Linked DNA regions of Homo sapiens. The protein of the gene in region 2 interacts with the protein of the main gene of each other region in a pairwise test. Each region holds a gene or a part of one and is shown on either strand. Other genes may lie near its edges.

Region 1 (5,699 bases), on a different chromosome or scaffold from region 2:
GAGGCTGGAGTGCAGTGATCATAGTGCGCTGCAGACCTGAATCCTGGAGTGAAGCCATCCTCCCATCTCAGCCTCCCAAGTAGCCGGGACTCCAGGCAGACGCTACCTACCACACCTGGCTAATTTTTTTTTACTTTTCATAAAGACAGGGTCTCACGCTGTTGCCCAGGCTGGGCTCAAGTGATCCACTCACCATGGCCTCCCAAAAAAGCACTGGGATTATAGACGTGAGGCACCACGCCCAACCACATTACAAGTTTTTTAAACAAGTGAAGGAAAAATGTATTTTAAGTAACTGGTTTAAAATGATGTTTTAAGGCCGGACACAGTAGCTCTCACCTGTACTCCTAGCACATTGAGAGGCTGAGGCGGGAGGATCTCCTGAGGCCAGGAGTTCAAAACCAGCCTGGGCAACATAGCAAGACCCTATTCAAAAAAAAGTAAAAATACATATATATTTAATGATGTTTAAGAATATGTAAGATCTGGCCAGGTGCGGTGGCTCACGCCTATAATTCCAGCACTTTGGGAGGCCGAGGTGGGTGGATCATGAGGTCAGGAAATCGAGACCATCCTGGCTAACACGGTGAAACCCCATCTGTACTAAAAATACAAAAAGTTAGCCAGGCCTGGTGGCACACACCTGTAGTCCCAGCTACTCGGGAGGGTGAGGCAGGAGAATTGCTTGAACCCGGGAGGCGGAGGTTGCAGTGAGCCGAGGTCACGCCACTGCACTCCAGCCTGGTCGACAGAGCGAGACTCCATCTCAAAAAAAAAAAAAATATGTAAGATCTATCATAGTTTCATTTGCCATATTTAATGTTTAAAAGTGAATGAGCTCTATCAAATTTAACTTCAACATTGGTTTATTTTGTGATGTGTATTTGAGATGGCCACCTAGTGGTTTTTTCTGGTATGGCATTTTACTACTGTACTAGATTATGATCTGATTAGAATAAGCTTATTAGCTAGTTTGTTTATATACCAAATATATTTTGAGTTATCCTTTCTGTACAGATTCAGCTGCAAGTGAATAGATATTTTTACAGCATTTCTATAATTATTTTGTTTTATTTTTAAACAGAAGAAGCAGACTACAGTGCCTTTGGTACAGACACGCTAATAAAGAAGAAGAATGTTTTAACCAACGTATTGCGTCCTGACAACCATAGAAAAAAGCCACATATAGTCATTAGTATGCCCCAAGACTTTAGACCTGTGTCTTCTATTATAGACGTGGATATTCTCCCAGAAACGCATCGTAGGGTACGTCTTTACAAATACGGCACGGAGAAACCCCTAGGATTCTACATCCGGGATGGCTCCAGTGTCAGGGTAACACCACATGGCTTAGAAAAGGTTCCAGGGATCTTTATATCCAGGCTTGTCCCAGGAGGTCTGGCTCAAAGTACAGGACTATTAGCTGTTAATGATGAAGTTTTAGAAGTTAATGGCATAGAAGTTTCAGGGAAGAGCCTTGATCAAGTAACAGACATGATGATTGCAAATAGCCGTAACCTCATCATAACAGTGAGACCGGCAAACCAGAGGAATAATGTTGTGAGGAACAGTCGGACTTCTGGCAGTTCCGGTCAGTCTACTGATAACAGCCTTCTTGGCTACCCACAGCAGATTGAACCAAGCTTTGAGCCAGAGGATGAAGACAGCGAAGAAGATGACATTATCATTGAAGACAATGGAGTGCCACAGCAGATTCCAAAAGCTGTTCCTAATACTGAGAGCCTGGAGTCATTAACACAGATAGAGCTAAGCTTTGAGTCTGGACAGAATGGCTTTATTCCCTCTAATGAAGTGAGCTTAGCAGCCATAGCAAGCAGCTCAAACACGGAATTTGAAACACATGCTCCAGATCAAAAACTCTTAGAAGAAGATGGAACAATCATAACATTATGAAACCGTGGTTTGAATGTTTTCAGAGTGAGGATGCCATGAGGACTTGTACATTTGGCTAGTTTAAAAGCATATATACCTCTGACCAGTGACGTGGAATAGGCATGAGACGAGTAACGTTGCAAGCTTACAATATTATTAAAGTAGTAGTTTGATAATTGTTAATATAAACTTTGGTGGATCAGAGGTGAATTTAAGTCCAAAACAAAGGGGCCTTTGCTGATGAAGTTACGTGCTTTTGCTGTTTTGTCTGTGGAGAATCAGATGTTAAAGCACATTCTTGGAACTATGTGAGAAGACTAGATCATTTCTGTTGGAAGTGGTTGCATATTTAACCTGCTGTGCAGAGCCCAGTTAATTTTTCCTTTAACTGTATTTTTAAAATTCTAATGTGAAGTCTGATTCTCTCTTGTGGTACATTGGGGACCTCAGCTCTTAAAGGTCTCATGTTCCCAATATTTTATTTTGATTTTTTTTTTTTTTTTTTTTTTTTTTTTTTTTAGTGACTGGGTCTCACTCTGTTGCCCACACTGGAATGCAGTGGCATGATCACAGCTCTCTGCAGCCTCAATCCCCTGGGCTCAAGCAGTCCTCCCACCTCAGCCTCCTGAGTAGCTGGGACCATAGGCACATACCACCACATCTGTCTACTTTTTGTATTTTTTGTAGAGACAGGGTTTCGCCATGTTGCCCAAGTTGGTCTTGAACTCCTGGGCTTAAGCAGTCCTGCCTCGGCTTCCCAAAATGCTAGGATTAGAGCCACCATGCCCAGCCTATTTTGATTTTTGTTTTTTTATGTTCCTTTCTAATAAATTGTAACAAATGATGTTCTCAAGTACATTTCCAGTTTCTTTTCTTTTCTTTCTTTTTTTTTTTTTTTTTTTTTTTGAGATGGAGTCTCGCTCTATCGCCCAGGCTGGAGTGCAGTGGCGCGATCTTGGCTCACTGCAAGCTCTACCTCCTGGGTTCACACCATTCTCCTGCCTCAGCCTCCCAAGTAGCTGGGACTACAGGCGCCTGCCACCATGCCTGGCTAATTTTTAGTAGAGACGGGGTTTCGCAGTGTTAGCCAGGAAGGTCTCAATCTCCTGACCTCCTGATCCGCCCGCCTCGGCCTCCCAAAGTGCTGGGATTACAGGCGTGAGCCACCGCGCCCAGTTGTGCATTTCTGGTTTCTAAGAATCAAACCACTTGGCTGTTTTTAGGAGTTACTTCCCATGTTATAAAGCTGAGGAAGCTTTTTTTTTTTTTTTTTGAGACAGAGTCTCTGTCACCCAGGCTGGAGTGCAGTGGTGCAATCTCAGCTCCCGGGTTCAAGCAATTCTCCTGCCTCAGCCTTCTGAGTAGCTAAGATTACAGGTGTGCGCCAACACGTCTGGCTTATTTTTTTGTATTTTTAGTAGAGATGGAGTTTCACCATGTTGGTCAGGTGGGTCTCAAACTCCTGACCTCAAGTGATCCGCCCATCTCCTCCCAAAGTGCTGGATTGCAGGCATGAGCGCCTAGCCAGGAAGCTATCTTTTCTTGAGTTATGAAACTTTGCAACAGTTGTTCAAATTGGTGTTTGTCCTTCCTATAGCTTTCATATTTTCAAATTAATTCTGTATGGCTATATAATTTATGTTTTAAAAGGCAATTCTCTTGACTTTGGAAATATGGAAGTCTCTCCTTTAACCTATTCTTGTTCCCATTCCCAGTCTCATTTGAAATCATTCCTTTTATTGTTAGTGTGTGTATTTTTGTTGGTGTGCTTTTAATGCATCCAAGTATGCATCATTTTGGATAAAAAATACATCCAAATTAAGATGTTTTAACACATAGGACAAACTTGTGCACTTTTTATGCCAAAAAAAAAAAAAATTGGGTTTTCCTTCATGGGATTTCTAGAAACACTGCCTACACTTTATGAAAACTACATAGTATTCACCTGTGACAGGTAGAGTTTATCACTATTAATTTTATGAGGCTATTTATTACTTTCCAATGCATCCACTTAGAACAAGCTAAGAGTAAGGCTGCTAACTTTAATTCCTTGCCTGATTTTATTGTACAGTGTGCACAAGCACAATGGTATGCTTGTATATAGAAACTAAAAATACTATGAAGTACATAAGTTCCCTATGGCTTATGGAGAGTTATTTATTAATTAACTTTATGGTAGGGCTAGTATGAATACCTTTTTAACAATTGTGTGCTATTACAACAATGAAGATTCAAATGACTCCGCTTTGAAGGATGTTTTCTCTATATGGTAAAATATATATGAAGAAGTCTTGATTACGTGAAGATCACTTGACTCAGAATACTTCAATGTATTTTGTTCACATTACCACTAAGCATATTATCAGTAAACTATTAACTGACTGCACATTATGTAATACGTTGTACTTTTTGTTGAATTCACCGAAGTTCTTCCATTTATATGCTATTTTTAATGGCATTCCGGCTTTAACATTCTGTGAGTCTTACAAATTTGACTCTTGAATGGCAAAATAATGTTAGTATGTAGAAGGTTAACTTTCATTTATAATATAAGTGGTGCAGGGGTTCAACATTTTAAGTAAAAATATTTTTACACACTACCTCTCTCTTTTTTTTTTTAAAGTTTTAACATCAGAACTTTTGGGGGAAAAACTACTTCAGGGCTTGACTTTTTGTACAAATTTTAACTGTAAAATACAGATTTATCTTGTACGCATTCATGGAAATGGAAATCAAAGCTGCTATTGCTTTTTATTTTAATTATCCTGTTAAGGGTATCTATCAATGGTATTTTCAAGTAGATCTCTGTTTCTTAAATTATTGGTGAAATAATTGATTACTAGATATATTGTAAAACCAATAGATCCTGGTTATACGATAAAATATCAGCTCATTGGTAGGCTGAATCAATTATTTCAAGTGCACCTTATTAACAAAAGTATCAGTGGATCCAACATAAAATTTTATAGTACTAAATGTCAAGCCTAACTGTGAATTTTGTTCTGTATCTTAAGTAAATTTATGATAATGTTCTCGAGCTATCAACAAAATATATGTACTTTTGTGAGCTATGAATTTTCTAATTAAATTTTACATGCTATAACATGATTTTTACATGAATGATACTTTGTTTATAACTATCAAATGTCAGTATTTTACTACAATTTTATTATAAAGTGTACATTATCACTAAATGAACTTCGATTTTAAAAATCAAATTAGCTTTAGTTGTATATTATTTTTTACAAATAAAGATAGACTTGTATAAAGGCTACTTTCTTGTTTGAAATTATATGAAAAGTTGCCCACAAATACCAGGTGCCCATTATATAAAATAGGTAGGGAGAAAACCCTTGAGTTTTAACAAGATCCTTGCTTCCTTAACTTTTAATTGTTAAAAGATGGACCCCAAATTGTATGTGCACTTTTTGCAACTGTGTATGACCATATGGCTATGGGCTGGATGGTAACTTTTAAAATGTGGTTAATTCTGATAGTGTGAAAGGTTATGCAAGCTATTCACCCAAAGTTATCTTTAAGATTATTTGAAACTAGTTTGTAATGTGACAGCTTATCTTCTGAAATTCAAATTCACTTAGTTATACTTAATTAATATTACCATCTATCTAGTATGGCCTATGTTGATTGAATTCAATTTATACTGAAAAACTTAAAATGTCTGAGAAAAAGGCCAGGCATGGTGGCTCATGCCTGTAATCCCAGCACTTTGGGAGTCTGAGGCAGGCGGATCATGAGGTCAGGAGTTGGAGACCAGCCTGGCCAACATAGTGAAACCCTGTCTCTAC
Region 2 (4,091 bases):
AAATAAATAAAACAATGGAGAATATTTTAATTCCTAATTTTTAATAATATCTACATTAATAAATATAACATTAAATATTTTTTGAGAGACAGGGTCTCACTTTGTTGCCCAAGCTGGAGTGCAGTGGCATGATCATAGTTCACTGCAGCCACAACCTCCTGGGCTCAAGCAGTCTTCCCACCTCAGCCTCCTGGGACTATAGGCACTTTGCCGGCATGCCTGGCTAATTTCTTATTTTTCTGTATGTAGAGATGGGGTCTCACTATATTGCCCAGGCTGAACTCAAACTCCTAGGGTCAAGTGATCCTCCCACCTCAGTCTCCCAAAGTGCTGTGTGAGCCACTATGTCCAGCTAAATGTAACATTATTAAATGTAAATACGACAGCATCAGTTCTACCAGAATGGTGCTTTAAGTACAGCAAAATTCCAAACTCTGAAATTTTCACTTTTTCTTGAACAAATTTTGATGCATCTTTGTTCTTATACAAATTTCTGACATACTACATATGAAAAATGATCCACTCTCAATGGGTATTATACATTTTATTTAAAGACTTCAAAGTAAAAAAAAAAAAAAAAGGTACAGAAATAGATTACATTATGATGACCACAGTAGTATTCTACATGACAAAAATAAAAACAGATTTAAGTAAATGTACCGGCACTGAACAAGCATTTACTTAACATCCAATCCAGGCTGCATATGCACAAAATGATCTGACCACATGCTTATGCAAAATAAAGTTTTTCTTAGAAAGCCAAAATTCCAACCATTCTGACTGTCCGCTGCCTATTCCCCTGTTGAGTATTTTGAGCGAACTTCTATAGAATATAAGAACAATTGGCATGGCACTTAAAGACTGCAAAAAACAGAACACAATTAAAAACATTTATAATGCATTTCTGTATAAAATACACACCGTAAATCTTATTAGTTAAAAAAAGATTTAAAAACAAAAGACCACCCTGAATAATGGTTAAAACCTCATCATAGAAAAATGCTCATCATTTTGTACACTGAAAGAAACTACTGAGAGGTTTTTTGGGGGGCTGGTGGGAAGGTAGATACCTAACTTAAAGATTCATTCAAAATTTGCTTTAAATTGTGGGTAATAACTCACTGCTTACCCCTTCTCAAAATGTTTTATCATGAATACTCTAATATTTAACCACAGGACAAACATAAAGAATAACCTGAAGAAGGTATTTCTCAAAGTGAGGTCGAAGGCCCCAAAAGAAGTCTAAGGTGGGCTCACTAGTGTGCATTTTAAACCAACTTCCTAGGTGATTATTTCACATTCCAAAATCTGAGAACTAATGCCCTATGGGAAACAGCACCACTTAAAAGCAAGGCCATAAACATATTTCTGACATGAGATACAGAATTCTAAGTTTATGATTTGAAGTGAATACTGCTTTTTGTTTTAAAACAAGTTTCAGGTGTTAAGAGAAACATATTAAATAAACATGTGGATGTATATAAACATTTTCCTTTGACGTTTTCATTGCTTTCAGACTTATGTTATTTGAAGGAAAGAGAGTATATAGCTAGAAACTTTGGAAAAATGACATTTCCAATGAAATGCAGCATCCACCCCTCCAAAAAAAGATAATTTATTAAATGCCTACAAATTTTAAAACATTTGAAATTTAAACTAGATAACTTTCCTAAAATTTTTACTAAGATTAAAAAATTTTAAGTAATTTAGATAATCATGTTTACTTTTTAAGTCCCTTTTCATTAAAAATATATTTAAAATAAACAACAGAAGGATGCTATATTTGGCACCCCTTTAAATAATAAGCTGCTGAACACTAATATCCATAAAAAATAATCCGAGGAACTCTGCCTCTGAAATGTATTCTACTATGTATTACATGTGTTATCTAGTTAATAAAAACTCACTGAAAGAGCTGATACTGTGATGTGTGTGAGTGTATGTGTGTGTCCTGAACATTTATTCATGCCTACTTTATTTTTCTGATTTCACTAAAGGGTCCAATCATATAGATAATGTGGTTTAGGGGAAGAAATGAGCATAATTAAGATACCCTACTTAAAAAATAAATACTTTTCCTGTATGCTAAATTATAAGGAAAAAATATTATACATTCTGCCTCCACTGAATACATGGAATGCTTTTACAAGTTTGGTAACAATAATGAGTGCCTCATTTGAATCAAGTCACAAAAAGCAACTGTGGGGATTCACTCTCCAATAGGAAATAAAAATATTACCAGTGTACTTTTCTGTATCTATTTTAAATTTCTGGTTTTTTTCCTTTCTATACACTGAGTAATTTTCCATTCAACTGCATCCTTGGTCTTTTGCAGTGTATATATTAACACTGCAGTTAAAGTTTCCAATAAAGGGAAAGGCTCAGGAGCTACCCTGTTAATATACTTAAAAAGAAAAACCACTTGTGCCAGTTTTGCAAAAATAGTTAATGATTTGGAATCTGATTCATAATAAAAAGTGTCTTTTTTAACTCAAGAAGAATTTCCCAATTTGGTTTTTGTTTGAGACCGAGTCTCACTCACTGTTGCCCAGGCTAATCTTGGCTCACTGCCAACTCCATCTCCTGGGTTCAAGCGATTCTCCTGTTTCAGCCTCCCGAGTAGCTGGGATTACAGGTATGTGCCACCATGCCCAGCTAATTTTTGTATTTTTAGTAGAGACAGGATTTCACCATGTTGACCAGGCCAATCTCAAACTCCTGACCTCAAGTGATCTGCCCGCCTCAACCTCCCAAAGTACTGGGATCACAGGCATTGAGTCACTGCACCCAGCCGAATTTCCCAATTCTAAGCAAGCAGCATCTTCTATTACCAATTTAATAACTGCTGCCTTAAAAAAGATCAATAATTTATTTATCCAAGGCAATAAAATTTACACCTGAATTTTTAAACATAAAGAACTCCAAAACTAATAGGTAATATAAAAAGTTGTTGCATTTTATATTAATCTTTTATTTCAAAATTAAACCCTGAAATGATTTAACACAGAATGACAAAAATTATGGGAGGTTTATGATGTAATCCCACTATGTGCCTTAATGCAACAGATACTTTTTTAATGCAGTGTTTTTTTTTTTTTTAAACAAAAAAGATAACTTCATTACTCATCTGTAGGCCTTTTAAAAACTGAAAAACCAGTTCAACTAAATTTTGACATGATTGTCTGGAAGCTAGTAGTATTAATTTTTTTTTCATAGTAAAACAGATGTAATAATTGATTCATATAGTCTACAAGAGAAGATATTGGGTGTTTTTTTGTAGGTGGCAAATATAAAATGGTTAATTGTATCCAGGCTTGCAGCAAGTTTATCCATGCATTAAATGGCAACATGAGTAGAATACATGGTTGAAAAATGAGGATCAGACACATTCTTCTGCAGACATCAAAAGAGGATTGATATACTCAAAACCTTCAAATTCAGACTGATCAATCTTCCTCACAATGTCACTGTTGAAAGAAAAATAAATTTATTTTCATCATAATCAAGATTTCTTCAACCTTTAAATGGTAAAATAAGATTAAAAATCAAGTAATTAGGCTAATTGTACTGAAAGGAAATCTATAAATTTTTAGATTAATCCCCCAGATTTTCTAGACGAATCAAGAATGGAGTACTGAAAATTTAAAAAACCCCGATAATCCCACAAGCAAGTTTAGAGCCAAAAAGGAGTTCAAAACTGAGGACTGCGAATAAAAAAGACACCAGTTGTCACCATTCCAGTTAATCTTAACTTTTGACCAGAACAACATTCCTAGTTACAGGTGAACATCCAGGTTTGAATTAGCATTCAATTTAGTAGTCACCTCAACAGCCAGATGTTAGATAGTGTAGCCCAGAAGAAGTTAGCCAAAAGGAAAAGGCAATAGGAACAAGTACACTGAGAGACCTGGAATGAGGAGAGAACACCGCAGGGAGATCATGGGTCACAGAGAGGGGAGAGGTTGGCATTTTGTTACACTGGGCTTCTACTTTAATATACAGTGAGTAGTGCTATCAAATATTTAATACATAAATGTATTATGCCATACTAAGAAGCACAAAGTTACAGAGGATACAGTCCCTTCCTTCAA
Region 3 (7,037 bases), on a different chromosome or scaffold from region 2:
TTTAAGCCACCCAGTCTGTGATATTTTGTTGTGTGGCAGCTTGAGCTGACTAAGACAGGCCTGAAGCACCATCTATTCACTGATGCCTCCCCCACTGGAGTCTTTGGCCCGGACTTCCCTGTGAATGCCAGACTCGCACACACCCCAGACACCTCCACTCAACAATTTCAGGACCTGGCTCCAGTCCTTCCCAAAACCTGTGAATGCCGTAGCTTCACCAGCTCTGGCCCTCCTCATTCAGATCCTTGGATTCATCTTCAACTCCTTCAAAACCACTTTGTACTACCTTGGCCCCAAGTGACACTGCCTGGGCCCCTACAATGCTTTATTGGGGCCCCTGGCAGTCTGGCCCTGCTTGCTCTCGGACCTACTAGAATGGGAATGGGACAGCCATAGCTCTTCATACTCTCCCTGGTCACATAAAGCCCTTTCTCTACTCTTTTGCTTTTGGAGACAGGGCCTTGCTCTGTCACCCAGGCTGGAGTACAGTGGCACCATCATAGCTCACTTCAGCCTCAAACTCCTGGGCTCAAGCAATCCTCCCACCTCAGCTTCCCAAATAGCTGGGACCACAGGAGCTACATCCAGCTAATTTTTTTTTTTCTTTTTTTTTTTGAGGCAGAGTCTCGCTCTGTCGCCCAGGCTGGAGTGCAGTGGTGGGATCTCGGCTCACTGCAAGAATCGTTCAAGCGATTCTCCTGTCTCAGCCTCCTGAGTAGCTGGGATTAAAGGTAACCACCACCATGCCTGGCTAATTTTTCTATTTTTAGTAGAGATGGGGTTTCACCATGTTGGCCAGGCTGGTCTTGAACTCCTGACCTCAAGTGATCCGCCCACCTCCCAAAGTGCTGGGATTACAGGCGTGAGCCACGGCACCCGGCCCATCCAGTTAACCGAAAAAAAAAAAAAAAAAAAAAAAAAAAAAGTATATGTATATGTATGCTTTTTTTTTTTTTTTTTTTTGGTAGAGACGTGATCTCACTATATTGCCTGGGCTGGTCTCCAACTCCCAGCTGAGTGTTCCTCCTGCCACAGCCTCACAAAACCCTGCGATTATAGGCATGAGCCACTGCGTCTGACCAACAAAGCCCTTCCCGACACTAACTCCCTGGCTTGATTCTCCCTGCTTGACTTATCCTTCTTGGGAGTTCCTATGATTTATTTAGCAAGCTGGCCATTTTTCTTTTTCTAAAAAAAAATTATTTATTTGTGCATTTTTTAGTAATAGAGACGAGGTCTCCCTAATGTTGCCCAGGCTGGTCTCAAACTCCTGGGCTCAAGTGGTCCTCCTGCCTTGGCCTCCCAAAGTGCTCGGACTACAGGTGCGAGCCACCACCCCTGCCAAACTGGGCATTTTTTGGGGCTTCATGTCAGTTTCCCTGGGGCAGGGAGTTTGCCTGTGTAGATCCCTGTTGTGTCCTCTACCCCTAGGACCTGGCCAGGTACACAGTGGGTGCTCACAGTCCTTCGTGGAAAAAATGAACAAAGAATTACTTCCATTCCTCCTAACCTAACTCCCTGTTTTGTTCCACATTAACGTGGCTCAAACAGGAATAGGGCTCAGAAGCATTATCTGTGGCTGGGCAGACAGACGACCTCCTTTGACAGCTGCCAAGGTGGGTAGCCAGCAGTCAGGGGCCTATTGAGACCGCAGTGTTACCTGACGAATTGCTCACACTGCCGGTGGATCCTGCCATCTGCAGGAAGGGGGCTGGCAGGATGATTCCTGGGAGTAGTAACTGTCAGCTCTTAGGGAAGAGAGCTGAGGAATTCCCCAGCCAGCATGGGCCTGTGAGAGACTGTCAAAGGCACAGTCCTTTCCTGATGTCTTTCCAGGGAAGCTGTGACATGGCCGTCGACAGATGCTATGGTCTGAATGTTTGCCTCTTCCCAAAATTCACATGCTAAAGCCTATCTCCAATGTAGTGGTATTAAGAAGTGGGGCTGGCTGGGCACGGTGACTCACGCCTGTAACCCCAGCACTTTGGGAGGCTGAGGAGGGCGGATCACGAGGTCACGAGGTCAGGAGATAGAGACCATCCTGGCTAACATGGTGAAACCCCATCTCTACTAAAAATACAAAAAATTAGCCAGGCACAGTGGTACGTGCCTGTAATCCCAGCTACTCGGGAGGCTGAGGCAGGAGAATCGCTTGAACTCAGGAGGCGAAGGTTGCGGTGAGCCGAGATCGGGCCAATGCACTCCAGCCTGGTGACAGAGCAAGACTCCGTCTAAAAAAAAAAAAAAAGTTAGGCCTTTCAGCCAGGTATGGTGGTTCACGCCTGTAATCTCAGCACTTTGGGAGGCCGAGGTGGGCGGATCACCTGAGGTCAGGAGTTGGAGACTAGCCTGGCCAATATGGTGAAACCCCATCTCTACTAAAAATACAAAAATTAGCTGGGCGCAGTGGTGCACGCCTGTAATCCCAGCTATTAGGTAGGCTGAGGCAGAATTGCTTGAACCTAGGAGGTGGAAGTTGCAGCGAGCCAAGATCACGCCACTGCACTCTAGGCTGGGCAACAGAGCAAGACTCCATCTCAAAATAAAAAAGAAGTTGTTGATCAAAAATTTAAAAAGGGCTGGGTGCAGTGGCTCACGCCTGTAATCCCAGCACTTTGGGAGGCAGAGACAGGCGGATTACCTGAGATCAGGAGTTCGAGATCAGCCTGGGCAACACAGTGAAACCCCGTCTCTACTAAAAATACAAAATTAGCCTGGCATGCTGACACATGCCTGTAATCCCAGCTACTTGGGAGGCTGAGGCAGGAGAATCGCTTGAACCTGGGAGGCGGAGGATGCGGTGAGTCAAGATCGCACCACTGCACTCCAGCCTGGGCAACAAGAGTAAATCTCCGTCTCACCAAAAAAAAAAAAAAAAAAAAAAGTGGGGCCTTCGGGAGTTGATTCAGTCAGGAGGGCTCTGTCCTCATGAATACGAACTGTGCCCGTATAAAAGAGGGGGAGCTTGTTTGTCCTTGCCACCCTGTGCAGATACCTAAAAGGTGCTATCTATGAGAGATGGGCCCTCACTAGACACGGAATCTGCTAGCACCGTGATATGGGACTTCCCACCCTCTACAACTATGAGCAGCTCATCTCTGTTGTTTATCAATGGCCCAGTCTGTTTTGTTTTTTTGAGACAGGGTCTTGCTCTGTCACCCAGGCTGAAGCGTAGTGGTGCAATCTTGGATCACTATAGCGTCAAACTCCTGGGCTCAAGTTATCCTCTCACCTCAGCCTCCTGAGTAGCTGGGACTAGGGATGTGTGCCACCACGCCCGGCTAATTAAAACAATTTTTTGCAAAGACGAGAGACATATGTTCTCAGGACCTCCTGAGGGCTGTGTCACGGGTGAAAAACAAATTAAAATTAAATTTTTTTGTAAAGATGAGGTCTCACTATGTTGCCCAGGCTGGTCTCGAACTCCTGGGCTCAAGCAATCCTCCCATCTCAGCCTCCTAAATGCTGAGGTTAGAGGCATGAGCAATGTGCCTGGCTTCCAGTCTAAGGTATTTTATTACAGCAGCCCAGATGGGCTAAGACCTACAAGCCAGTTAAGGGAGACCAGCAACTCCAAGTGTAACAAGGAACAAAGGCCCCAGAGAGCCCCACAGTCCTTCATGCAGCTCAGCAGGATGTGGCTGGATCCTGGCAGCTACTCAGGTTGCCTGCCTGACCCAGAACCAGAAAGACCCCTCTGTAGGGGCTGAATGTGAAGGCAGTCCAGGAAAACAGTTAGTGAAGAACAAACTGTTCAGTGGGGGGCGGTGACTCCTACCTGTAATCCCAGAACTTCGGGAGGCTGAGGCAGGAAGACGCTTGAAGCCAGGAGTTTGAGACCAGCCTGGGCAATACAGCAAGACCTCATCTTGCATCAGTATTTTTTTTTCTTTTTTGTTGAGACAGTCTTCCTCTGTCGCCCAGGCTGGAGTACAGTGGCGTGATTTCGGCTAACTGCAACCTCCGCCTCCTGGGTTCAAGCAATTCTCGTGCCTCCGCCTCCTGAGTAGCTAGGATTACAGGCACACACCACCATGCCTGGCTAATTTTTGTATTTTTAGTAGAGACTGGGTTTCTCCATGTTGGCCAGGCTGGTCTCAAAACTCCTGGCCTCAAGTGATCCGCCCACCTCAGCCTCCCAAAGAGCTGGGATTACAGGCGTGAGCCACTGCACCTGGCCTGTATTTTTTTTCTTATACACCCACAGATTTAATTCGTTATCTCTTTCCCTGAATGACTATTGTTAAATCCATGGTGGAATAGGATTAGTAACAGTGTCCCCTACTCAAGCCTCACTGACTGGGCCCATACCTGGCCAGGGCTCAGACAGGCTCATTTAACTTACTCTTCTTTACAGTTTCTGAGGAAGAAATGAGCCTGCCTGCCATTTCATGGATGGGAATGAGGCCCAGAGAGGTGAAGCCAGAGGTGGGGAACATGTAGCTGGTGAATGGCAGGCACAGGTTTATACCCAGGCCGTCTGGCTCCCGAATCAGGCAAAAATGTGAGGCAGCTGTGACTAGACCCATTTCACAGGTGGGAAAACTGGTGTTCAGAGAAGCAAGGCAGAGACCAGACGGGAACCCCGGACCGGCCGAGCCCAGAGCTGGGGCTCTTTACCTGAGCTACTGGATGTGTCCTCTCCAGAAACAGGGTCTTCTGCCTGTCTGAGGACCTCCACCTCAGGGTCTGGGGTGCCCTCTCTCTAATCCCCAAGGAAGGCCTTCTTCATTCTTTTCATTCTTCCTTTCCCAATCCTCCCAACTGCAGCTATTCTCTAGCCCCTTCTCCCTGCAACCACCATCTCCGGGAATGAGCAGTCTCCGCGTGCTGCCTCTCCCTCCTCCCACTCGCTCCTCCTCGCAGCCCTCGGCAATCTGGCCTCCCTTTGCAGGCAGCAGCTCCAGCTCCTTGGAGAGCCTGGCAGAAGCTCTGCCTCCGTCCTCATGGAGCTCGCAGCCTGCCCGCTCCCTCCCCACCAACTCCAACCATAAGCCCACCCTTCGGAGTTACATCCCACTCCCTGCGTGTAATCAGATCATACCCAAAAGACAGGGCAGCAGTGGCGGCAACCAAGGGTGGAGGGAACAACAGTAAGTGCAAAGGCCCTGAGGTGACCCTGGTGCCGCTAACACAAAGGAGGGTGGAGGGATGGGGATCATCCTGGGAGAGGGGCCTGCTGGGCTGTGCTAGGGAACCACGCAGGACCTAAGATTTTGAATCCTACTATTGTACTAGGCTCAAATCCCTTATAGAGCTTGTCACTCAGAATTACCCTCAATACTGCTCACCCCCCATATCAGTCTCCCATCTAGAAAATGGGCTGACAGCAGCAGCCACCTCACAAGGCTATTTCAAGGATTAAACAACCAAAGAACACAGGCCGATCGGCGCTCGCCCCGTAGTCGGTGCTCATGAATGCCAGCTGCTGTTAGTCGTATCCCCTGGCCCCGTGCTGGGCCGCAAACTCCCTGGGAGTAGAAGACATCTTATGCCTCTCACCATCTCCCAGACCTCGCACATTTCATGGGATTAACAGGCAGTGATCGCTGGGGTTTTCCCCAGAGCCTTCACAGCACTGTCCACTCACACCCCAGACGCCAACCTCTCCCGCAAACCTCATGATAACCAGACAGTGGAGATTCCCCACCCAGCCACTGCATTTGCGTCAATCATTCTTTGTGGTGGGGGCTGCCCTACACACTGTCTGATGTTGAACCGCATCCCTGGCCTATAAACCCACTAGATGCCAGCAGCACACCCCCCCCCCCCCGGCAGGGGCAACCAAAAATGTCCCCAGACATTCCCCAAGTGTCCCCGGAGGTAGGACTGTACCCAGTTGCGAATCACAGCAGTATAGTTGTGCCCACTTGTCACTCCTTATCAGAGGAGGACACTGAGGCTCAGAGGTAAAGACCTTTGCCCAGAGTCTCATGGCTGAGACAGGGGTGGTGCTAAGTGTGAAATTTCACTCTCTACTAGACCGTGTCTGCTCACCCTTACCTACCCTCTCCCTTTGCTCGATTTAGAAACCACGAACTGGACACAGTCAAAGCCCTCAGAGAAGACGCACAGGTCTCTAAGAACTGAGACCTTCGCCAAGGAGGCAGCACATGAGAAGGCTGGAGGGACATGACCACAACCACACACAGATCACAACCTAAGACACGTCACCTCTGCCGGCTCGGCTGGTCCTCACCCCACCTAATGTGCAAGCAGGCCCAGTCCCACCTCCCGGCCCCACCTCATGCGGCCCAGAGGGTTCTCTAGGGGAAGGCAGTAGCGGCTGAGAGGACTGAGGAGCAAATGCAGACACGAGGAACATGAAAGTGGCTGGAAGGCGGCACAGGGGTGGTAGCCAGACCACTTTGCAGCTTGTGTGAAGGAAGGACTAGGGTGCCTCAGTTGCCTTGTGTGTCAAATGATGATAACAGGCAGGACCTGCTAGCCACGGGCTTAAATGAGTTCGAGTGTGTACAAGTGCTGAGAGCAACCTAGGAGGAGAAACGAGGGGCACGGAGGATCTGAGGACGCAGAGTGGCATGAACACTGACTCATGTTTTCCAGCCCCGGTGGCTCACCACCATCCCAAAAGCAATATGCCCCACCAAGCCTGATGGGATCCCTCTCTCCACACAGGCTCTGGCAATGACACTGATGAAATCTAGGGTCAGACAATGTTGGGCCAACCCCAAACTCTCTCCAAACCCCCGGGCCTCCAGGCAGACTCCTTCAATAGACCCTGTAAGGCTGACCAAAACTCACATCTCCTCAAAGCCCAGCTCAAGAACCTGCTGGGGCTCCCTGCTGCCCGGCCAGGAGGCCAGATTTTTTAAATACCCTAGATGCAGGCCAAGGGGTTCTGAACTTCCATCTGGGGGTGATGGGCAGATCCAGGAGACCCAGAGACAGGGCTTCACTCTCTTGTGAATGGTACTAGAGTCTCTGTCTCCACAGTAGGGTCATCCCCCCACTCCTTCCCTCATGAAGACAAAATGTTTAGAGCACTCAGAAGAAGACTGGTACATACTCAAGAA
Region 4 (7,781 bases), on a different chromosome or scaffold from region 2:
CAAATGGTGAATGACAAAAATTCTGAGAGAACCTAAGGCAGTTTTCCAACCCAATATCTTAAAATGCCAAAGAATTCTGACCTGCAGTATTTAACTCAAAGCGCTCTTGTATTCAATGCATTTCATCTTGATAGGTAAGCAGAAAAGGTATCATGCCCATTTTACAGATGAAATAACCGATGCTTGGAAAAGTTAAATGACTTGCCCAAAAGCTCACAAATGCAGTAGGTGGCAGAACCCAGGCTGGACTCAGCTCCCCAGACGCCATTTTCCCCACAAACCAAACCATGGTGTTATGGTGCTACATTGAGGTTGTCATAAGGCTTTGCTGTTATTTTGACAACAGCGGCTCCCTATGGAGATAGATGCTACAGTAACAAATATTAACCATAAAGTGGGTAAGTGGGAAGCTGTGCACAGAAGGAAGAGCCACACGGACCCTCTGGACAAGCAGCAAGTTCAGCCCCATCACGGTGGGGAGGGCACAACAGCAAGTCCAGTAAGGCCCAGGTCAGTGTGGCCCTTCCAAGGACACCCCAGTTCAACCAAAACTCTGGCGCTGCCACTCACCTCCAGACAAGCATCTGCTGCATCTGAACTTGAATCCATGCTTGGGGTGTAAGGCAGCACCCCTTCTTTGCCAAGTGGAGCTGGCAGAAGCAGGCAGGCTGACACCCCAGGGAAGGCAGAGGCAGCCTCTGTAGTGCCAGCAGCCCAGGACTGCAGGATGAGGCCTGGTGAGGGCATGTCCTCCAGACCTACCCTGTGCCTGGTTGAGGCCTCTGATTCTCTGGAGCTATGTGTGTGAGGAGGCAGCCACCCTCTGCAGAGGGCAAATGAGCACAGAAGTGAGTCTTTAACGCTCATGTTAACCAACCAGTCCTCCCTGGTTAAACAGCTGCTGTGAAGGGCAGCAGGAAGGATCCTAGGATGAAAGGGGAAAACTGCTCTGCACCTTGATTGTGTTGGTGGTCACACCACCGCACAGACCTAGGCGTACACGAATGAGTGTGTCACGCTGCTGAGACCCGCTAAGGTCTGTGTCCAGGATACGACAGTGTGCTAGTCACACGAGATGCCACCATCAGGGAGGCTGAGCAAAGGCTCAGAGGCTGAGAACACAGACCTCTATATTCTCTCACAGCTACTTGTGAATGTACAATAATCTCAAAATAAAAAGTTAAATAAGATTACATACCACACGTGCTTATTGTCTACTGTACTAGATAGTGCAGCTCCAGAGAGCTGTGTTCCCACTGAGCTAAAGAAACCTCCCGCCCATGCTTGTGGGCTCTTCCCCTCACCTAACCCACAGCTGGCACACTTGATTTGGGGGAGCTGGGGGCACTTCTGTGCTCCAGAGAAGATGGGTGTGGGGCCGAGGTCATGGGGCAAGGGTAAGGACAGGATCTTATGATAAATGAGGGATTCATTAAAAGACCGTGTACCCCTAAGCAGAGAAGGATCCTGCAACTCACTGTAGCAGGCTGGAGAGGCGGCCATGCTGTTGCTGGGACACCTCCCCGCCTCAATCCTCTGCAGACACCCTGGAAATCCTACTCCAAAGGTCAGAGCAGCACAGCGAGAGGGGGCTGTTGGACTTGCCTCCCCAGAGACAGGGGAGGGAACACCCGCCCTGCGCCCAAGATAGGCACACAGTTAGGGGTGCGGGCTCCCACTCCGCCGTTAGGAGCCTTTCCCACAACTCTGAGAACCGGGGTGCGAAGAAAGAAAGGGCGAAAGGGCCGCTCAACTCCCAGAGAGTAGCCAGCGAAAGACTCGAGGGGCCCCCTCCCGCAGGACCCCGAACAACTGCAGCACCTCCTCAGCCCGCGGGGTCCACCAAGGAGACCCTCACAAACAATAGCATCTGCGGCGAAGGAACCACCCCCGCAAAGGGCAGAAGCGCCAGATCCTACCAGCCAATTACCCAGACGCGCATCGCGACCCGCAAGTTCGGGCACGCTCCGCCCGGGCGCAGGCAGCGGGAGGGGCCGGGCACGCCCGTGGGGGTGGTCTGGGTACGGGTCTGATCCGGGGGCGCGCTCGGGAGGGGTCTGGGTCTGAGCCGGGGGCGCGCCCGGGGGAGTGGGCTGGGTCTGGGGCGGGGGCGCGTCCGGAGGTGGGGGAGTCTGGGGTGGGGGCGCGCCCGTGGGGGTGGGGTGGGGTGTCTGGCCCGGGGACGCGCCCGGGGAGGCGTGGTCTGGGTCTGGGCCGGGGGAGAGCCGGGTGCGTGCTCTGGGTCTGCGCGGGGGAGCGCGCCTGGTGCCTAGATGTTTGGTACCGAGCGGGTGGGGGACGCCGGGCTCGGAGCCGGCGGCAAGTCTCCTCCTGGCAGGTAACAAGCCTCCTTTGCAGCCTTGAAGGCGCCTTGGCCAGGGCCATCCCACGGCCCGGGCCCCCAGAGCCCCCCCACGGCCCCGAATCCGAGCAGCCCCTGGCCCTCAACTCGCCCCGGAAAGGCCGCCCTCCCCTCCAATGTGTGGCGCGCCCCGATCGCCTCTCACTCGTGGAACAAAAGAGCAGCTCCCGCGGAGCGGGTCCAGAGTCTGCCCGGACTGTCCGATGGCCCTCGGCCCTCTGAGCGCCGCGGCTGCCGGGCTTTGTGTCCGCGCGGGGGGCGGGAAGGACGGCCGGGGTCCCCAGTGCGCGTCCCGCGGAGCGGCGCGCGGCGCCCGAACTGGAAAGTTGTCGCCGGCGCCTGTCGCCTCCACGCCGCCCCAGTCCCCCTCCGCGGGGCGCCCCATTCATTAGCCAGGAGACTGGGCGCAGGGCCGCCGGGGCGGGCGGGGGGCTTACCTTGCTCTTGACTTCCACTGCGCTGCAATCGTAGAATCGCAAGGTCTGAGACTTGTGAAAACTTCGGTTCATGGTTTCGGCCCCGGTCAGCCTCGCCGTCGCCCTCGCTCCTCAGGGGCCGCAGAAAGACTCCCGGGGGCGGCGCCCCCAGGCCCCGGCCCCGGCCCCGGCCCGCGCTCGCTTGGCCGGCGGGCTGCTCCCGGTGCTGCGGGCCCGAGCTGGGCTGGCCGCGCGCCTCAGGGACTCCAGGGGCCGCGCGCGGGAGGAGCGCGGGGGACGCCGGCGCGCGCCGCCCCACCTCCCGGCGCCCGCGCCCGCGCCCCGCCCCGCCCCCGAGCCCCGGAGGACCCGCCCATATCCCCGCCCACAGCCCCGCCCCGCGCTCCGGAGGACCCGCCACACCACGCCCCCACGCTGCAGCTCCGCGTCGGATCGCCAGTGGGTGCGCGCCCTCCTGTCCACAATCCCAGAGCCTGGGGAAAGGAGCATCGCGGCCAGCCCAAGGCGTCTCGTTTTGATTGCCTCCACCGAGCAACCTAGGATAGGGGTTGATTTTTGCCATTGTTTTGGGTAATATTCAAGTGAAGAATGCTAACGAGAACCACTGGAGACCTGATCCCAAAAGGCATCACCTGTCAGTACTAATTGTCAAGTTGCTGATGGCCTGGGAGAAGGGTTTTATCAAATAGGCTTAGAGCAGCCTGGCCAATACGGTGAAACACTATCTCTACTAAAAATACAAAATTAGCCGGGTGTGGTGGGGGGGGTGCCTGTAATCCCAGCTAATGGGGAGGCTGAGACAGGAGAATCGCTTGAACCCGGGAGGCGGAGGCTGCAGTGAGCCGAGATCGCATCACTGTACTCCAGCCCGGGAGGCAGAGCGAGACTCCGTCTCAAAAAATAAAAAATAAAAATAAAGGCTTAGAGGGCTTTATTAGATAGCCTATCTCTAGGGAGAGGATCAGAAGCACCTGCCTGATGCGAAAGGAGACTTTTTCTAAGGCAGCTAGAAAAAGAGAACCTGTTAAGACAAAGAATCAATTACTAGCAGCATCAATGAATATTTACCAATCAAGAGGCCTCTGAAACGGGCTTGCTGAAACCAAAGATACAATCCTTGCCCTTGAGGAATTTGTGATGAAGTTCAGAAGACAAGACAGTTTTTAAAAAATCATTTTGAAGTATACTATGAATTGTAATCTACAAGCCATATAATTATAAATCTCACCATACATTCATTGCAAAAGAAACCTGCAGAATATAAAGAAGTGAAAAAACCTGTAAAAATTACCTGTAGTCATGCTACTCAGCAATCAACTGTATTAACCTTTGGTGTATTTTATTTTCACTTATTTTTCTGCATATATATTTGTATATTTTACAAAGTTGTGACCATGCTGTTTATCTCGTTTTACAACTTGCACTTTTCACCTTGTGCTATATAATGAACTTTTTCTTCTTCTAAAAACAGGATCTTGCTATGTCGCCCATGTTGTAGTGCAATGCCATAATCACAGCTCACTGCAGCCTCAAACTCCTTGGCTCAAGCAATCCTTCCACCTCAGCCTCTTGAGGACCACAGATTTGTGCCACCACACAGACTAATTTTATTTTTATTTTTGTTTTTTGTAAAGATGGGGGTCTCTTTATGTTGTCCAGGCTTGTCTCAAACTCCTGGCCTCAAGCAATGCTTCCACCTCTGCCTCCCAGATGTGAGCCACTATACTCGGCCAGAACGGTTTTATTAAATGTTCTTAGAGAAGATGTTTTCTAAAAGGTGCTTATATGAATATAGGCATAATTTATAATCATTTCATTATTGTTGGATATTTAAGATGTTTCCACTGTTAAGCTTTTATATCACACTGTTTTAAAAATTTGCTTATATTCAATGTTTTAAATGGACTTCTAAAATTAGAACTACTAGGCCACAAACTACACACCTCTAAAGCCTTTAACACAAATTACTTTCATAGAAATCTGATTTTCCTTTATTTTTGCTAAGTATTTACCCTGTTATATGCTGGGACTTAGTGCCAGGGAGTACCATTACAAAGCCACTGAGTTATAATCACTGCCCTTTAGAGAAATGCTAGGCTGGCCAGAGGACCGGATATGTAAACAGAGTTCCAAAACAAGGCACGTGCGCAGTAAGTAAGCAAGCAAACAAAAAATGCCAAGAGACACACACTTGGCAAGCAGACTGTGGACAGAGGTGCTGCCATTCTTTCAAGGGAAATTTCCTAAACTGAATGCAAATCTTTGGATTTGAGAAAAGTCACAGGCTCAATGCTGACTGCAAGTTGCCCATTACAGTGGGCAACATTGTTTTGTGGTTAGAAGAGGCTCAGTAATATCCTGAGGGAGGAGCTCCAACTGTCACATTTTAAGAAATGCAGGGACAAAGGAGTATGTGGAGGAATGAACAGCACTGTAGGCAATGAAGGTGGGAGTGGGGTCCACCCAGTAAGCTCGGGGCTTTGGAGTGGGAAGACGCCTTTTAAAGGAAAGGCTGGAAGGCTACGGAATTTCAAGTAGCCCTAGACTTGGCTCTGGACCAGGTTGATGAGAGTGAGATCACTTTGTCAATGCCTGTGGCTCAGAGTGTGGTGTAAGGCCCAAAATCTGCTCCACCTGGCACTTGTTAGCAATACCCCACCCAGACCCACTGAATCAGAATCCGCACTTGAACAAGATCCCCAGGTGATTCATGTCCACACTGAAGTTTGAGAGGTGCTGCTCCTTTATCTTAATCATCTGTTGCTCCACAGTTCTTGATTGGCATGATCTGCAGGCAAAAGCAGGAGGAAAGGCTGGGAAAGCTTGCTGTTGCGTGTGGAGCTTGAGTTTCCAGCTGAGACTTGAACTGGATTTGCTAGGGCTTTGAGCTCTAGGTTCAGGCGGGTATAGACCAAAAAAAAATTAACTGAGCCTTCAGCTGGAAAGGCTTTTACACAGTACAGCAGCCAGATTGGAAAAAACAAAAGCCCTCTCCTACCAGACACAGTGGCTCACACCTGTAATCCCAACACACTGGGAGGCTGAGGCTGGAGGATTGCTTGAGGCCAGGAGTTTGAGACTAGCCTAGGCAACATGGTGAAACCCTGTCTCTCCAAAAAAAAAAAAAAATTAGCTGGGCATGGTGGGACACACCTATAGTCCCAGCTACTCAGGCGGCCAAGGTGGGAGAATTGCTTGAGCCCAGGAGGTCGAGGCTGCAGTGGGCTATGATTGTGCCACTGCACTCCAGCCTGGGTGACAGAGAGAGACCTCATCTAAGCAAAAAGAAGGGAGTGGGGGAGGAAAAGGAAAAGAAGAAAGAAAGAGAAAAGAAAGGAGAGAGAGAAAAGACTCCTCAGATCCTGGCCTGATAGCCTGCCTTTTCACACAACTGGGGGTCATGGGAGCCTCTGAGAGGCTGACTTGTTTCAGACAGAAAATGAGAGAGAAAATAGGAATGGGTAGGGGTTAAATCTTCCTCAAATCACGGCTTCTAAGAACCCATCTAATAACTGAACCATCAGGAGCAAAAAGGAAGTATGTTGTGGACCCAGTAAAATGTATTCCTTGACTGGGTGCAGTAGCTCAAGCCTGTAATCCTAGCACTTTGGAAGGCCCCTCTGCAGTGGCTCATGCCTGTAATCCTAGCACTTTGGAAGGCCCCTCTGCAGTGGCTCATGCCTGTAATCCTAGCACTTTGGAAGGCCAAGAGGGGCAGATTGTTTGAGACTGGGGAGGCTGAGGTGGGAGGATTTCTTGAGACTGGAAGGTCGAGTGTGTGGTGAGCTGTGATCATGCCACTGCACTCCAGGGCATAGCAGAGTGAGACCCTGTTGAAAAAAAGATGAGAGCAGGTTCTTTTATGATGAGAGCAGGCTCTTTTATGATGAGAGCAGGCTCTTTTATGATTGAACATTTGTTGCTGATGTATATGTTCTAAGAAAACATTCTCTAAGATAATTTCGTTGGGTAATAGGAAAGCATCGCTGTAATATTTGAACCAGCAGGCTGTTGCATTTGCAATGCATTCTAATATATTTTCGGATGAGGCAGGCAAAGAACTGATATTCGATTGAAATAAGGAAATGGCAGAGTAGTTATGCCTCATTATCACCTGATTCTCATATAAAGGCATCCCTTCTTTTTACCCTTTACTCTTCCCCTGCTCAAAGAGGCCTCTTCTGCCTTTTTTAAAAATTTTCATTTTTGAGATGGAGTTTCATTCTTGTTGCCCAGGCTGGGGTGCAATGGCGCGATCTTGGCCCACTGAAACCTCCGCCTTCCGAGTTCAAGCGATTCTCCTGCCTCAGCCTCCCAAATAGCTAGGACTATAGTCATGTGCCACGACGCCCGGCTAATTTTGCATTTTTAGTAGAGACAGGGTTTCACCATGTTGTCCATGCTGATCTCGAATTCCTGACCTCAGGTGATCCACTCGCCTCGGCCTCCCAAAGTGCTGGGATTATAGGTGTGAGCCACTGTGTCTAGCCTCTTCTGCCTTTTTGATGCAGTAATATCTTGACTCTCAATGGAAGCTTCATGCCTAAATTGACTTACCAGTAGCTCTTTCAGCAGATGGCACCGTTGGCCAGAATAGAATGAATTCCCTGCATTCCAGAGCCATCTGCCCACATCCTACAAAGTGGCCCTGGTTGCATCCCCTAGATTGGTGCAAAGGGCTCTCTCCTCAACCAGCTTGCGGTGTGACCTGCATGTCCACCCCCAGGTGGAAGACAAAAGGCAGGTGGTAAACCTTACGCAGCTGTCTCTGACTTTGCATTAAAACTCTGGGACACTTTTACAAAATACAAATAAAAGCACCTAGAACATGAAGCACAGTCTTTGTTCCAAGTATTACACTAAGCATGGATTAGAGTCTCAGGATCTGTTTTAAAAAGAGTCAGTCCGTAAAGCTTTTCACTGACTTGGTGAATGTATCAGAATGTGATTTTATGGCAGAAAAGCGTGGTCAGTTTTCAGCC

What was found.
Region 1: the proteins of PRKCI (region 2) and PARD6B interact in binary tests that used the Homo sapiens proteins (3 or more experiments, as listed by UniProt).
Region 3: the proteins of PRKCI (region 2) and NACC1 interact in binary tests that used the Homo sapiens proteins (3 or more experiments, as listed by UniProt).
Region 4: the proteins of PRKCI (region 2) and PARD6G interact in binary tests that used the Homo sapiens proteins (3 or more experiments, as listed by UniProt).

What each region holds. Positions count from the first base shown.
Region 1 is NC_000020.11:50,748,575-50,754,273, forward strand, and holds the end of PARD6B (partitioning defective 6 homolog beta), read left to right. Parts: intron 1-1,084; coding exon 1,085-1,914; 3' UTR 1,915-5,167; downstream 5,168-5,699. UniProt on the Homo sapiens protein: Adapter protein involved in asymmetrical cell division and cell polarization processes. Probably involved in formation of epithelial tight junctions.
Region 2 is NC_000003.12:170,302,416-170,306,506, reverse strand, and holds the end of PRKCI (protein kinase C iota type), read right to left. Parts: intron 3,468-4,091; coding exon 3,380-3,467; 3' UTR 530-3,379; downstream 1-529.
Region 3 is NC_000019.10:13,121,260-13,128,296, reverse strand, and holds part of NACC1 (nucleus accumbens-associated protein 1), read right to left. Parts: intron 1-7,037. UniProt on the Homo sapiens protein: Functions as a transcriptional repressor. Seems to function as a transcriptional corepressor in neuronal cells through recruitment of HDAC3 and HDAC4. Contributes to tumor progression, and tumor cell proliferation and survival.
Region 4 is NC_000018.10:80,244,478-80,252,258, forward strand, and holds the start of PARD6G (partitioning defective 6 homolog gamma), read right to left. Parts: upstream 3,038-7,781; 5' UTR 2,872-3,037; coding exon 2,800-2,871; intron 1-2,799. UniProt on the Homo sapiens protein: Adapter protein involved in asymmetrical cell division and cell polarization processes. May play a role in the formation of epithelial tight junctions. The PARD6-PARD3 complex links GTP-bound Rho small GTPases to atypical protein kinase C proteins.